Regions from separate parts of the Homo sapiens genome. Here region 2 is linked to region 1. Evidence: fine-mapped expression QTL. Tissue or cell type: sun-exposed skin. Region 1 holds a variant in brackets; the other region holds the start of a gene. All regions are shown on one strand. Distances are from middle to middle.

Region 1 (8,101 bases):
CGATCTTGGCTCAGTGCAACCTCCACCTCCCAGGTTCAAGCAATTCTTGTGCCTCAGCCTCCTGAGTAGCTGGGATTACAGACGCCCACCACCACGCCCAGCTGATTTTTTTATATTTTAGTAGAGACGGGTTTCACCACGTTGTCCAGTCTGGTCTCAAACTCCTGAGCTCAGGCAATCTGCCCATCTCAGCCTCCCAAAGTGCTAGGATTACAGGCAGGGGCCACTGCGTCCGGCCAGTTAAAGGACTCTAAAACAAAGAGGTGCCTGGCCGGGTACAGTGGCTCACGCCTGTAATCCCAGCACTTTGGGAGGCCGAGGTGGGCAGATCACCTGAGGTCAGGAGTTCGAGACCAGTCTGGCCAACATGGTGAAACCCCATCTCTACTGAAAATACAAAAATTAGCCAGGTGTGGTGGTAGACGCCTTTAATTTCAGCTACTTGGGAGGCTGAGGCAGGAGAATCGCTTGAACCCAGGAGGCGGAGGTTGCAGTGAGCCGAGATTGTGCCATTGCACTCCAGCCTGGGGCACAAGAGCAAGACTTCGTCTCAAAAAAAAAAAAAAGACATAACCAAGAATATGGCATCTAGACCAAGGAGAAACCATTGGTGCTGGAGAAATGCTCTGAGATGCTGAAATCTCACGCCGGCACTTTGGCCCAACTCCTATTCAACCTTCACGATGTCGTTTCCGCTGGGCCACCTGTCCTAACTCCTGAGTCGAGAAAGCATGCTCCCAGGTGTCCTTACAGTACCCTGAGTGTCTCCCAGCACAGTGCCAACACCTTTGCCTTATCATTGCCTTCCTCTCTGGAAAGCACAGAGCTCTGTACATAGCAGGATTTAATAAATTTGTGTAGAATGCAAAAGGAATGAGTAGGGATCGAATAAGATCCACGGGCTTGGTGAGGGCAGACAAAGAGAATGAAACTGCCACTGCAGATCGGAACTAAGGGGGCTGGAAAAGGGCCTGTCATGAAGGCACATGTGGATGAGCTAAATCCGGGCCCTATTCGACAAATCCAGGAGTTAAAAGCCGCTCCTAGAAGTGCGAGTGGTCTGAAATTAGAACACACAGGATGATGTATTATTTTAGACGAGTGAAAGACTCTGCAAAGAGATGACACAGGTAAGAACAAACCAAAAAGGTTCAGATAAGTACGCTCAGTACAGCTCCCCATTTATGAAATGTCACATGGAGCATACCTTTAGCTTTTGGAAGTGATTATCTGAAGAGATAATAACTGGTCAGTGTGGCCATTCTTGGGCCATTCAGAGCTGAGACTCAGGTACTACAGAAGCTATCCTGACTCCCTCCTGTCACCCTGTACGAGTGATCTAGGGGTAGGCAGCTGTGCCAGGCTGCCCTGCGGGGAAGGAGACTCCTGTAGATGACCCTATACAGCTTTTCAAATGACAGAGGTAGGGCCCGGCAGGTCTCTGGAAAACACACATCATTGTGGACAATGAATTTTGCCCTGGTGGCATCATTTGGTGTATGGGAAGCACTGGCCTCTATACGCCCCTAATGAGCCCACCTGTCAAATAAGTAAACTGAGGAATAATAGAGAAAGGATCCCTTTTAACTTCCAAAGCTCTAATGTCCAGATGGGAATTAGTCACTAAACCACACAGTTTCTCAATATCCAAGTTCATAGAGGAAAACGAGCCTTCAGGGAATGTCACAGCCACCTCCGGCCTGAGACCAAGGAGAAGGGAAGCAGGGCCATACCTTTCCGGAGGGTGTGAGGACTCTGGTCTGCAGGCGGCTGGCTGGGGCTGGGGCTGGCGCCCGGCTGAGCTCCAGGTTGAGCCCCTGGTTGAGTCCCTGCACAGGCTGTGCCCTGGCTGGAGCCTGGACTTCCTTTCTGTGCAGAGCCTGGAGAAAGTTCCTTGCTTTTTGTTGTGCTGAAACGAAAGCACATGAGACAAAAGAAAAGCCCTGAACTCAGTGAGCGGCAGCACCAGCCTTGCCGATGGCCACCCTGTGTGTCCTTCTGGGCCCCGTGCAAGTCTGTCCCAGCTCTGGTCTGTCTTGGCCCCTTCCTAAAACCTTCGCAGGTGCCCCTTGGGGTGACTGCCCTTCCTGGAGCTCTGATGGCCTGGGTTCTGCCCCCATCTCTGTGGCACTTGGCACTCACTGCCAATGCCCTTTTCATGCCTCTGCCCTCCTCTCTTCAAGGAGACCGTGAGCAATGTGAGGGCAGGGGCCTGAGCACCTCTACCGTATCCTGCCATCAACCCAGGAATTCTAGAACATTCTCAAACTGGAACACCAAAGTGCTTTTCCTACTGTAGCCAAGAGGACTTCTCAGGGCCACTGTGCCCAACGAGTGCTGATGACACGGACTCCTGCTGCCAAGCTTGTGGCCCAGCTCTCCAGCTGTTTGCCCTGAGCCTCCAGCCACCCCCCAGGCAGGAGGGATTCTAGGACTCATCCTCAAACTCAATACCCATTCCAGCAGAAGCTAGGGTGGACAGAAATCCAGGCCATGCCCTTAAATGTGGGCCAGTTTGAGTCCCAGTCCCAGGCTTCAAGAGAGGTGAAGGTCGATGGCAGTGAGGGCTCTGGCCTCTGACCTCTGGAATTGACAATGAGGCACCCTAGGTCACCAGGTTTCCTAAAGAGGATTCATCGTTACTGCAAGGCTGTTCCTCAGCCTTCTTCTGAGGATGAAGCACGTATTAGAAGACACCTCACTCTACACCACAAACCAGGGATTTGTCATCCTGATACGCTGATGGTAGATATTACTAATTGATCTCCACACTTCCCCCACAGTGTTCTCAATCCTTTCCAAGAAAATTCTCCAGGTGGCCTTTAGTGAATCAGGGGAGATGCCCCACAGTTGGGAGCCATCTGTCATCCGTGCTAGAACCTACCTGGATTCTGATGCCCACAGGTGGGGCATGAAGAGTCTGGGAACCCAAATCCTCTGCAATGGCTGTTTCTATCCCACAAGAGCAGGCACAACCTGGGCCGGGCATGGTGGCTCATGCCTGTAATCCAGCACTTTGGGAGGCCGAGGCAGGCAGGTCACCTGAGGTCAGGAGTTTGAGACCAGCCTGGCCAACATGGCGAAACCCTGTCTACACTAAAAATGCAAAAATTAGCTGGGCGTGGTGACATGTGCCTGTAATCCCAGCCACTCGGGAGGCTGAGGCAGGAGGATGGCTTGAACCCGGGAGATGGAGGTTGCAGTGAGCTGAGATCGTGCCACTGCACTCCAGCCTGGGCAACAGAGGGAGACCCTGTCAAAAAAAAAAAGAAAAAAGAAAAAAGAAAAGAAAAAAAAAAGGCAGGCACAGCCTATTTCTTTCCTAAACTGATCTAGAAACTCCAGGTGTTAATTTGGAGAAAATTCCAATAGGAATAGAGCACTCTCGTCCACTGAGGTGAGAAAGACTGGGAGCAGGGAGCTGGGCCGGGGAAGCCCATAGCGTCAAAGCACAGGTCATTTTCCTCATGCAAAGAAATAAAAGGAAGATCACATTCAATGTGGAGGCACATTCTCTCCCACTTGGGATGAGTCTTACACACTATACCTAGTTCCCCAAGGGGCAAAAACCATTTTATTCAGAGGAACCAAAA[G/AG]AGCAGTAATTCCTTTCTCTATTCTGTTCATGAAAAACAGAAACAGAAAACCCTTGCCTCACTCAGGCTGGACAAGGACCTCAGGCTGCAGGTTACCAGGTACCCGGGCATCAATGCCAAATATCTACCTACCCTTCCATCTATCTCTGCCACTATCAAGAGGAAGGCCAGTCAACCAATCAAAAACATCTCATAATCAGCAAACTAAAAAATTGCTTCTTGTGGGTGGGTAGACTCTTCTTCCTTCCTTTGGACACACATCTATCCAAGGAATCTAGGAATGAGCTCTTCCTTCTGTTCCCTGCCACGAAACACACTTTTTTTTTTTTTTTTTTTTGAGATGGAGTCTTGCTCTGTTGCCCAGCTGGAGTATAGTGCCATGATCTCAGCTCACTGTCATCTCTGCCTCCCAGGTTCAAGCGATTCTCCTTCCTCAGCCTCCCAAGTAGCTAGGATTAAAGGCATGTGCCACCACACCCAGCTAATTTTTGTATTTATAGTACAGACGGGGTTTCACCATGTTGGCCAGGATGGCCTCGATCTCCTGACCTCAGGATCCACCCCCCTCGGCCACCCAAAGTGCTGGGATTGCAGGCGTGAGCTACCACGCCCGGCCCGGACACACTTCCTCCAGCACAGAAACAAGTATTTACCCACTTAGCCTTGTCCTCTTTCTCCAGCATAGGTGCAGCTGACCCAGTGGGGAGAGGTGGGGCGTAGGGCGGCTACTAGGGGCGCTACCTGAACAAGGCATGTTTAAGGCACGTTTGAGGACAAGTTAGCTCTGAAGATGCATGACTCAGCCCATGACCTTGGTGCCAAGAAGCAGGAAGGAGAATTTTGGGGTTAGCATTCATGCTAAGCAGTTGGGCGGGATGTGGAGGCAGAGCCTGGCTGGACAGAGCCAGGGAAAGAACTGAAGGTGGGGCCTGGGGTAGGGAGTGGGAAGGTGGGAACCAGTCAGAGGCAAGGAAGGGCCTGCCATCAGGGGAGGGGGAGCCAGAACGAGAATCCGGCCACTCGAGGGAACATCATCTGGGCTGCAAACATCCAGGAAACAGAAACAAACAACACAAACAAAAACAATGGAACACCTGTTTGTACTGGGAGAAACCCATGCGGGGAGAGAACAAAAAGTGGTGTAAAACACAAAACACTAACATCCAAAGAAAAGTTACTAAACCGGTCAGCCCGGGCAAAGGGGAAAGACATTTGGCTATAGAGCAATGTGAGTTGGCTTTAAAATAATCGAAACCAGAGGGTGCCATTGCCTGCCCACAAGTAACTCTGCAAGGTCACCCACCGAGAATGTTCCTGGAATGCCTTCAGAGCCTGGGGGAATCCATCTTCAAGGAGCACTTTTTAGAAATATCATTTATATGCCAAATACCATATGGCACTGAGTCCCCTTTCTAAGATGGGAAACTAGGATGAAGCTGAGGAGTGTCCAAAAAGGAAGCAGTCCCAGCCCATCTCCCGCCTGTGGGTCCGTTTCCTCCTGGTCGGCCTCACCTGGCCCACCACTCTCAGACTCTGCTTCTCCAATGAACTCACTGTGCCCGCATCTGCATCTCTCAGGTCCATCTGTGGCCTAGCAATTACACAGCCAGGACCGAGCATCCTCTGAGTTGAAGTCATCAACAGCAACCCAGCATGCCCAGGGTCAGGTGCCCCCTCCTATGCTCTAAGACTATCTAACCCCCTGTCCCTTTGTCATTTCCTGGTTTTACAGTGAAAATACTTTTTTTTTTTTTTTTTTTTGACACAGAGTCTCGCTCTGTCACCCAGGTTGGAGTGCAGTGGCACCATCTCGGCTCACTGCAACCTCCGCCTCCTGGGTTCAAGCGATTCTCCTGCCTCAGCCTCCTGAGTAGCTGGGACTATAGACATATACCACTGCACCCAGCTAATTTTTGTATTTTTAGTAGAGATGGGGTTTCACCATGTTGGCCAGGCTGGTCACGAGCTCCTGACCTCAGGTGATCCGCCCGCCTCAGCCTCCCAAAGTGCTGGGATTACAGGTGTGAGCCACCGTGCCCGGCCGTGAAAATACTTTTTACTCATTAAACAAAATAAAACAAAAAAGCCTGGAAGCCTCTCATGTAGGGGGTTGGTGTGGGTGTGGGTGTGTGTTTGTGTGCTGGTGGTGATGGTGTGTGAGGATGAGTGTCCATGTGTATGCATGTGTGTTTGGAGAAAGATTTGGGTTAGAAGATTCAGCTTCCCAAAGTCTCCAAAACTTTTCTGGCAGTGGTCATGGAGGAATGCCATGTCTTCTAACAGGAGACACGGTGGCATGTGATTTCATATTGCTTTTCTGGTGTTCTAAATTGCTGTTTGAGAAAAGATAGAAACAAACAGCAAAGCTGTTTCATGGTGCAATTCTCACATCCAGAATCTGCCTCCCCTGATCATGCCCCTTTCAAGGAAGGGCCAGGTACTGTCTCCTCCCCTGCCACCCTGGGTATGCATAACCAAGTGCTGTCATTATTTGTCAGGGCCTGTTTGCTCACTGGAACGTGAACTTTTTAAGGGCAGCAATCATGTCTTTTTTTCTTTTTTTTTTTTTTTTTTTTTTGAGACGGAGTCACGCTGTCACCCAGGCTGGAGTGCAGTGGCGCGATCCGGGCTCACTGCAAGCTCCGCCTCCTGGGTTCACGCCATTCTCCTGCCTCAGCCTCCCCAGTAGCTGGGACTACAGGCGCCCGCCACCACGCCCAGCTAATTTTTTGTATTTTTAGTAGAGGTGGGGTTTCACCGTGTTAGCCAGGATGGTCTCGATCTCCTGACCTCGTGATCCACCCGCCTCGGCCTCCCAAAGTGCTGGGATTACAGGCGTGAGCCACCGTGCCCGGCCATCTTTTTATCTTTAAAAAGAGAAAGTTATCAGTTAATATTCATCAAGCTACCCATGGAATGAATTCCTGTCTTTTTCCTTCCCCTAAAATAATGGCAATTCAACCATGTGGCAAGCTGCAAAGGTCATCAGGCCCAGTACAACCGCCACCTCCATTCATTCCCTGACTTGCACCCATTTTAGCGGCATCAAAAGAAAAAAAAAAGTGGCTGCTATGACTATAAAGAGAAGGAGAAACACAGAAATTGTAAACTTCAAAATAGGATACAGTAGTCCCCCTTATCCGTGGTTTTACTTTCTGTAGTTTCAGTTACCTGTGGTCAACTGTGGTCCAAATAGGTGCGTACAGTTCAATAAAATATTTTCAGGCTAGGCATGGTGGCTCAGGCCTGTAATCCCAGCAGTTTGGGAGGCCGAGGCGGGTGGATCACTTAAAGTCAGGAGTTTGAGACCAGCCTGGCCAGCATAGTGAAACCCCATCTCTACTAAAAATACAAAAATTAGCCAAGCATGGTGGCACATGCCTGTAATCCCAGCTACTTGGGAGGCTGAGGCAGGAGAATCGCTTGAGCCTGTAAGGCGGAGGTTGCAGTGAGTCGAGATCGCGCCTCTGCACTCCAGCCTGGGCGACCAACCGAGACTCCATCTCGAAAAAAAAAAAAAATTGAGAGACACCACATTCACATAATTTTATTACAGCATATGCTTATAATTCTTCTATTTTATTACCAGTTATTGCTTATGTCCTACTGTGCCTAATTTATAAATTAAAACTTTATCACAGGTATGTGTGTATAAGAAAAAATAACAGTATATATAGGGCTTGGGACTATCAGCTGTTTCAGATATGCGCTGGGGGTCTTGGCATGTATCTCCCACGGATATGGGGGGCCACTGTAACGACAAAGACAGAGGAAGGGGAAAACAGAGTTGGGGAACCTAAGACTCTTCACCCTGCCTTCGCAAGCTGCCACCTTCTGCTTGCTTGCGATGTTATGCTGGGGAAGACTGGACTTCGTGTGATAATCCAGGCAGCTGTGGATGACTGACTTGGTGCCAGCGCGACGCAGAAGCCAAATATGAATGCTTAGAAATGGGGGCGGGGGCATGGGAAACGACGAAATCCAAGAGGCCTCCAGTGCGGCCAACCCAGACACCCCCTGCACCGCACACCAGCCCGCCCGGACGGCAGTGGCCCGCGCTTACCTGGTGCGCTCGGGCCCAGGCTGGAGGCCCAGGCCGGATGGAGAGAGCGCGGGGGCCGCGGGGCTGTCCAGGGGCTGCTCCGGCAGCGGCGAAGGCAGGGGCGCAGCCAGCTCGGCGGGCGGGGCGGGAGGCTGCATGGAGGGCGGGGCGCAGGACACTTTCCGACCGGCCGAGGAGCCTCTTCGAGCCACCCAGTTTGTGTCCATGACCCTCACACCCATGCTGGCGAGGGACACAAAGACACCGCTTACCCACGCGTAACAGATGACAGGAGACAGGCTCCCTCCCCCACATTCAAGCAGGTCCGCGTTGGGAGAAGAGCAGCGCAGCTTTAGCACCCCGGGGGCCCGGGAAGCGATGCATTGGGGGCTGTGCTCCCAGCACCCTGGCTGCTCCCGGCGGCCAAGACACAGCCCTGGGCAGCCCAGTCCTGGCAAGAGCGGCC
Region 2 (8,091 bases), 190 kb after region 1:
TAAAGAAACATGGTATCAGGAGCTTTCCCCATCTTTGAACTACTTCAAAAGACTCCCCTATCTATAGCGCATGGATCTTTTGTTCACTTACTCATTCCATTGCCAAAGAATGACAGAGGACCTTCTATACAGGGCAGCGTTAGGGCAGCTGTCCCTGCCTCCAAAGAGTTTAAAGTCTAGTGGGGAAAGTAAATGACAAAAGATAAAAATTATAACACAAGTGAGCCATTATTACCATAGCATGCTTTTAGAATGCAGGTTCCTTTTTTTTTTTTTGTGTGAGATGGAGTCTCACTCTGTCGCCCAGGCTGGAGTACAGTGGTGCAAGCTTGGCTCACTGCAACCTCCACCTCCCGGGTTCAAGCGATTCTCCCGCCTCAGACTCCCCAGTAGCTGGGATTACAGGCGCCCGCCACCATGCCCAGCTAATTTTTGTATTTTTAGTAGAGACGGGGTTTCGCCATGTTGGCCAGGCTGGTCTCGAACTCCTGACCTCAGGTGATCCACCCTCCTTGGCCTCCCAAAGTGCTGGGACTACAGGCGTGAGCCACCACGCCCGGCCTAGAATGCAGGTTCCAGGCAAACAGGAATTTTGTTTGCCCTGTACTGCAATACTCCCTGAACCAGAGCAGTGTCTGGGACACAGTAGACATCTAATAAAGGTACATATGCCATAGTGCATATAATTCAATAACAGTCATAACATTTGCCCAGAGATACTTGTAGCTACCATTTATTAAGCATTTCCTAGTGCTGAGCACTGCTAGGTACTTTTCACAGGTTATCTATGTTATCACTGTGGTTACCACATTACCACAGTGCAATCCTTAACTACTCCCATTTTGCAAGTAAGAAAATTAATGTGCAGAGAATTAAGCTCTGGATTCCATAGTCAGCAACAAACTAAACCTGTCCCAGTGGAAAGCCTGTGCTCCTAACCATGAGGCACACAGTGGCCAGGGAGTGCTTCCCAAAGGACGGATTGAAGTGAAGGGACAGAAAGGGGAAAGTTCAAAGCAGAAGGAACACGTGCAGACTAAGGAAACAGACCAAGGAGGGGCTGAAACTTTTGTCAGTTAAATACAATGGGTTTTATCAAATCTTTTCATAGTCGCTGACGCCCTTAATATGACTTGGATGTGAGCACTTCGAGAGAAAGTACTAGTAACCCAGCAGAGTATGTTTAAGTAGGGCAACTCCTACATTGTTAAAATGACTTTAAGTTTTATATTCAGAACTCCAGAACCTGCAACTTAGGGAAGGCGAGCCATGAGGAAGGACTTTCAAGTCCTCTTAGTCCTCCCTCGGAAAGAGGAAAACTTTAGAAAAATATAAGGATAAAAATCAAGTGCTTTATAACTGCACACCTAAAGTCCAAATTCCAATCCTATGTGCTTCTACTGATTTAAGAAATTAACAGGCAACCGCGGGCTCTTTTACTCCAATACTCATAGGATCATGACCCAAAACATTCTCAATAATAGAGGAGATACTGCCCCTCTCGCTGACCCTCACGGACCCTGGGGTAAACCGTTTTAATCTCGGCAATCAACACCGATTGAGAGTCAGTAGTCTAAACGGCATTGCACTATCTACACAGGCATACAACAGCAATCAATAGATTCTGCTGGAAGCAGACAGACAAGAAAATAAAAAATAAAAGCGTTTCAATCAGTGATGAGTGCTGTCCAGAAATGAAAAAATGATGAGCTGGAGGTAAATAGGGGAGGAAGGGCCTCTTGAAGGCCTTGGAACCAAGACTGAAATGATGAGAAAAAGCTACTTGGAAGGAGCACATTCTCAGCCAAGCAAAAAACAAAAAAAATGGGAAAACAGTAAAAACGAAATCCTCAAGGTGGATATGAGCTCAGTGTGTTTGGGGCAAGAAAGGCCACACGGCTAGAGCTCCATGAATGTGAAGAGATGAGAATGGGGAGAAAAAGAGTTAAGAAAAAAGGCCAACCAAGGATGGTCCTGTAGAACCCTGGCAAGATATGAGATGCTAAGCACAATCAGATGTCGCTGGAAGCTTTTCAGCAGCAAGGTAACATGAACTGGTTTTTGCTTTAAAAGGCTTGCTCTGGATTTCATCAAAAGCGATACAGGCTGGCCCTCACCTGGCCCAGTGCACAACACAATGGCTACCAACGGAGAAAGGCAGAATTCATCCATAGGCCAACATCCACCAGAGCCCCAACAAAGAAGAGGAAAGAACCTCTTGGTAACCAGCTGCTTGGACTTCCAAGAACGTGCTCTCAATACCTAAGACCACTTTTTCTGAAATCCAACCTCCCCTCACCATTTTGCATTCCCCCCATGGATGAGGCTGAAAAATAAGATATGATGCCATGGCGCAAAAATCTCCCCCATTTAAAAACAGGTCCTGAAAAAAAGAAGAATTGTGTTTCAGGAAGGCCAGGGAGGAGGCATAAACATGTTCTGAACATTTAGATTCTAGCACGGCACTGAAACCCCAAGACCAAGAGAAACCAGCAACCCAAGTCTAGTGTCAGGGGCCTCCTGGTCACTTGGCTGGTCTGAGGTGATGGCCAATGCCCGCCTGCAGGGTGACGAAGAAGCCAAGACATTAAAGACGGGTCGGCTTGACTGTCATCTGCTAAACAACGAATACCAGGAAACACTATCTCGGCATCCAACACATCAAAAGGCAGTCCACGTGAGGCTATATCTGTGGCAATACCATGCCAGAAATCTGGGCTAATCTGACTCTGCTATTCATAAATTCCCCCTCATGTTAAAGCACATGTGTTTGGGAAGGAAAAATGAATCCAAGTCAATTTTAGACATTGTTACTTGGAAACCATCTGGAGTCCCTGGAAGCATAAGAAGCCACCGCATCCCCTGCCCTCAAATGCCCACTGTAACTAGGGCAGTATGCTCAGACGGGAGTTCAGATGTCCCCTATTCCCCAGGGATGTCCCCACCCCCATCCTACCAGATGCCAGTTCAGGCTCCACTTCCCACCCAAGAAAGGTATTCGGTTTCTCCGTAAACCTAGTGGAGAGCCCTCGAGGTGTTGAGCTTGCATTTGAACTGCACCCAAGGCTGGATTCTTTGCTTTCTGATTGCTTTAGAACAGCACACCTGAATTCCTTTGCCACAGCAGCAACGGAAATCCCTCCCCAGGAGTAGGGGTTCCAGGAAAAATCCCTTCTACCTAACGCTCCTGTGTTCAAAGAATGTCTAGTCTTGGGAGCGACCCACCAGGATTTTTATGTAACCTTAATAGATGTTGGCACCCTGCAGAGCCGCTCCTGGAGTCCAGATGTAGCCCATTTTCACCGTGATGGCAGCAGGCGGGGTCTTGCAGCTTCCCGGGGCCTGACTCTTCTGACTGTGGGGCCTCTGTCCCCCTCCCCTACCTGGCTGCGATTCTCTGCTTATCTCATCTTCCCGAGGACTTGGGCCTCCTTTTTGCAGCCTCCCTCCCTCCACTGAAATCAGTCCTAACATCAAGCAGGCAGCAACGCCATTCCACCAGCACCTTCCTTCCTCTCCCACCCCTCACCCTTTCCCCCCACCAAACGCCTTAAGAAACCCGGCCAGGAAAGTGATCCAGAATCTCGTACAGTCATAGTCCCTGAAAACAAACACGGCGGGAGGGGCAGGCCGACCAGGCCCAGCACTTTCCCTGGACCCGGGAGCAGCCCTGAACTCGGCGCAGGGGAGGGGAGGGAAGAGATCTCCGGAGACCGACTGCGGTTCGGCTGCCTCCAGCACAATCAGAGCAAACACCTGTTTCCAGGAAGACAGGCGGCCAGAGGGAGAAGGGAGTCCCGGGGAAAGGCAGGGAGGACGAAGCGAAGGGGCAGCCGGGGACGCAGGTAAAGGATGCGTCACACTTTGCGCTTGGCAACCGGAGCCCGGAGCAGAAGGCGGCGAGTGAGAAGAGCTCCGGGGTCTGGGAAGTTAGGGAGGAGGGGTCGCGCCTGCGAGCGGCGCCTGGAGGGAGCTGGTGCAGGGGAAAGGACTGAGGCAAGGAGGACTGGAGGCTGGGCGGGCTCCATCACCTGCGCGCCCCTGCGGATGCAGCCTCGCGGGCGCGCACCGACAGCGGTGCCCGCGGGTGACCTACCTGCCCACCGTCTGGTTGGCCAGCTGGCGCATGCGATTGAACTGCTTCTTCATCGTGGCCCCGCTGCCGCGCTAGCCCGGGAGCTGGGGAAGGACGGAGCAGCCCGGAGCCCGCCGCAGGGTTACATGGCTCCCGCGCGGAGCCTCCCGGGCGACGGCGGCGGCACTGCGGAGCCTCCGGGCGCCGTCTGGCCCGCGCGCAGCTCCCTCCCGAGGGCGCCGCCGCCTACTCCTCCCGCCGCGCCGCCTCCTGCCGCATCCCCCTCACGCGCGCCGCGCAATGCCCGGGGCAGAGCAATGCCTGGGGCCGTCCTCGGCACCGGCCCGCTCCGCCCGGGCTGCCTGCTCCCAGTCCCAGTCCGGCGCGGGGACCCGGGAGTCTCCGCAGGCTGGCTGGCCGGCTGGCCCGGCGGTCCCCGTGCGCCTGTGCGGAGAACGCCGTGCATGCCGGGACTTGTAGTTTCGCGCCCCGTGCCCACCTTTCCTCTGTCCAAAGTTTGCAAGGACAGTGGAGTGCGGAGGTGGGAGAAGGCAGCGTCACCAGCAGCTTTGCACTTTAGCGTTCGAGTAAGGGAAACGTTTTCCTGTTTTAAAAATGGCAAAGTGGGACCAAGAATACAACAGCAAATAAAGAAAGTGAGCATCTGTCTCTCATTGTATTTTTAGTGAATGTGAGGTATCAGTGTTCTGAATTCACAGAAGGGAGATTTATGCTAGCAGATACGTGGCTGATAAAACGGTCTAAGGTCACCTGATTAATGATGAGGTTCAAGGTTAAGCTTGAAACACAGGGGCTGACAGCAGATTTTGAACAGGCATAGCTTGCATCCCAGAAGTCTGATTCTTAATTTTTACCAAACCAAACCCATTAGGTAACCAGAAGCCAATATAGATAAGTGACGTTGTGCTTACTGGCCCAACCTGTCTGAGACAGCTTTTTTGTATGGCTTAGATGCCAATCTCGTATCTAGTCCCATTTCCCTTCCACCACCAGGAGACCAAGGGGCATCAGCTGCAGCACCCCCCAAGTGTCCTGCACCACAGCATCCCATTGGCGTCAGTTGACTCCTTGGAAGGGGTTGTGGCTTCTTTGGTCTCTATCCTTAGAAAAAGATAGGTGAGCCGGGCGCGGTGGCTCACGCTTGTAATCCCAACAGTTTGGGAGGCCAAGGAGGGTGGATCACGAGGTCAGGAGTTCGACACCAGCCTGGCCAACACAGTGAAACCCTGTCTCTGCTAAAAATACAAAAATTAGCTGGGCGTGGTGGCGGGCACCTGTAATCCCAGCTACTTGGGAGGCTGAGGCAGGAGAATAGCTTGAACCTGGGAGGTGGAGGTTGCAGTGAGTGGAGATCGCGCCATTGCACGCCAGCCTGGGTGACAGAGCTAGACTCCATCTCAAAAAACAAAAAAAAAAGAAAAGAAAAAAAAGAAAAAGATTGGTGATTGCAGTTAGGTTTTATCATTATATATCAAGGTTTTATCATTATATATCAAGTAAAAGCAGTATTGTTGGGTGTGAGGCACTTTGGATTAAACAGATAGGAGTTCCTGCATCAGAATTCCACATACCTGTTATATAACCTTAGGAAAACAGCTTAACCTCTCCAAACCTCTGTTTCCTCATCCCTAAATAGAAAAATATGCTGCCTGATCTTCAGTAAGAGAACTATTTGTTAAATTACAATAATCAAATTACATATAAATTTTCATATAGTACATTGCCGTATTCATTTACTACAAAATGATTATATTTAGCATAATAGAGAAAAATCCTGTTCATACAACAGAATTACTAATCTTATAAAGGAAGGATCTTCTTTGAAATAGGATATTTTGCATATGTTGATTATAGTTGCAAGATGTCCTAAATATGGCTCTAAGTATCTTGCTGGCTAGCTGAACAAAAAGTGGTTTGAGGCATGTCTTGGCTGAATGAACATGAAATCTTTAATTAATTGTGAATTTAGCCTCTGCTTATTAGGTCAGACAACTCCAGCCAGTGAATAAATGAAGGCATTATTTGCTTTTAACCAACTATGCTGTACCTATAATGTCAATATGATGTCTATATTAAGTGAAATTATTTCCATTTTGAGATTTTTTAAAAAGCAAAGTACAACATGCTTTTTATGTGTATAAACGGTAAGACATTAAGGTCACTGTATGACTTTTAGCAACACTATCTCTGGTAACTTCCAGAACTGCACTGTTGAATATAGTATCCCCTAGCCACATGTGGTTGTTGCAATTTAAGTTAATTAAAGTTCAAAATTTGGTTCCTCACTTTTGCACTGTTGGTGGGATTGTAAATTACTTCAACCATTGTGGAAAACAGTGTGGCAATTCTTCAAGGATCTAGAACTAGAAATACCATTTGACCCAGCAATCCCATTACTGGGTATATACCCAAAGGATTATAAATCATTCTGCTATAAAGACACATGCACATGTATGTTTATTGTGGCACTGTTCACAATAGCAAAGACTTGGAAACAATCCTAATGCCCATCAATGATAGACTGGATAAAAAAAAATGTGGCACATTTTCACCATGGAATACCATGCAGCCATAAAAAAGGGTGAGTTCATGTCCTTTGCAGGGACATGGATACAGCCATTAAAAAGGATGAGTTCATGTCCTTTGCAGGGACATGGATGAAGCTGTAAACCATCATTCTCAGCAAACTAACACAGGAACAGAAAACCAAACACCGCATGTTCTCACTCATAAGTGGGGGTTGAACAAAGAGAAAACATGGACACAGGGAGGGGAACATCACACACCGGGGCCTGTCGCGGGTAGGGGCAAGGGGAGGGATAGCATTAGGAGAAATACCTAATATAGATGATGGGTTAATGGGTGCAGCAAACCACCATGGCACGTGTATACCTATGTAACAAACCTGCACGTTCTGCACACATATCCCAGAACTTAAAGTTTAATAAAAAATAAAATAAAATAAAAACAGAATTTAGTTCCTCGGTCACCCAAGTCACATTCGAAGTACTTAAGAGCCACATGTGGCTAAAGGCTACTGTACTGGACAGCACAGATAAAGAACATTACTATCCTCTCAGAAAGTTCTACTTGTTAGCACTAATCCTCAAGAACTCTGGTAGCCAACTCCAATATCATGCCAGCCCCTGCCTTCAATCCCAAGATTTTTCCGTTCCAAAGGGAAATCCCTTTGGCAGCCTCCCCTGCCAGAGTGTGGTCCAATAATGTTTTATTAACTGGTGGCTTCTCCACAGATTTTCTGTCTTCCTTTGAATGCTTCCTTCACTCAGGAAGCAGCTAGTACATTTTCTGCTTTCTACCCCGGGGAAGGGATAATAGTGCAGAAACAAGAGCTTCAGAAACACATGTGACAGAATAGAGTTCTTCAAGAAAAGAGTTTTGAGTTTCCAGAATACAGGCTTTGGAGCTTTAATAGTCTATGTCAGAAATAGTAGATTATAAAGCATATATCATCCTGCTTAGTCTAAATAAAGAACCTACAGGCTGTGAGATGTTGAAGATGGTGATGGGGACTGGAAAGCGGGAGAGAAAGAGAGAAGAAAAGTAGATGATGCTTGTGCAGATACTATTAATGCCCAAAAAATTTCACTGCCAATCCCTATGGGAAGGACTCTATTTTACCTTACTGTTGAGGTAAAGATCGGTCATGTGATTTTCTTTGAACAATGAATATGCACAGAGGTGACTTTTACGCTTCTTCTGAGGGCAGAAGTTTCAGGAGTCATTTTGTGATCCTGCCCTCTTCTTCTTAACGCTGCCAATGAACCAGTTAGGGGATGCTGTGGAACAGTGATGTGGCCCCCCAGCAAAAGGTATCTTTGCTGTTTTAAATCAGAGGTTTGTTGCTGTAACATAATTGAGTCTAAGCTGACTGCTACAGTGGGTTTCTCTGAGAAAGTAGCATGCACCTTGCTTTTACCCATGGTCAACAATTAGGTTGGGGGCAGGCAGACTGAAGACAGATATATCATATC

Alleles and levels. Alleles are on the strand shown, and positions count from the first base shown. SD is a standard deviation of normalised expression in the study named.
For the expression in sun-exposed skin of the gene that starts at base 4,490 in region 2, AG is the high allele of the variant in region 1 and G is the other (small effect, 0.22 SD a copy in GTEx).

What was found. PIP is the estimated chance that this variant, and not a neighbour inherited with it, causes the effect.
Region 2: ARHGAP44 starts here. The variant in region 1 is fine-mapped to the expression of ARHGAP44 in sun-exposed skin (GTEx, PIP above 0.99).

The regions. Positions count from the first base shown.
Region 1 is chr17:12,973,866-12,981,966 of GRCh38, reverse strand. It overlaps ARHGAP44 (Rho GTPase activating protein 44), which reads right to left. Exons shown (of 21, transcript NM_014859.6): 18 at 7,657-7,878; 19 at 1,734-1,909. Among named protein-coding and RNA genes, the nearest start is that of ELAC2, 40 kb to the left of the region's middle. RefSeq lists a silencer at 4,401-4,695. The variant G/AG (reference allele first, on the strand shown) is at 3,594.
Region 2 is chr17:12,785,897-12,793,987 of GRCh38, reverse strand. ARHGAP44 (Rho GTPase activating protein 44) reads right to left here and starts at 4,490. Exons shown (of 21, transcript NM_014859.6): 1 at 4,097-4,490. The coding sequence starts at 4,149. ARHGAP44-AS1 (ARHGAP44 and MYOCD antisense RNA 1) reads left to right here and starts at 3,704. Exons shown (of 2, transcript NR_104607.1): 1 at 3,704-3,845. RefSeq lists a silencer at 4,214-4,563.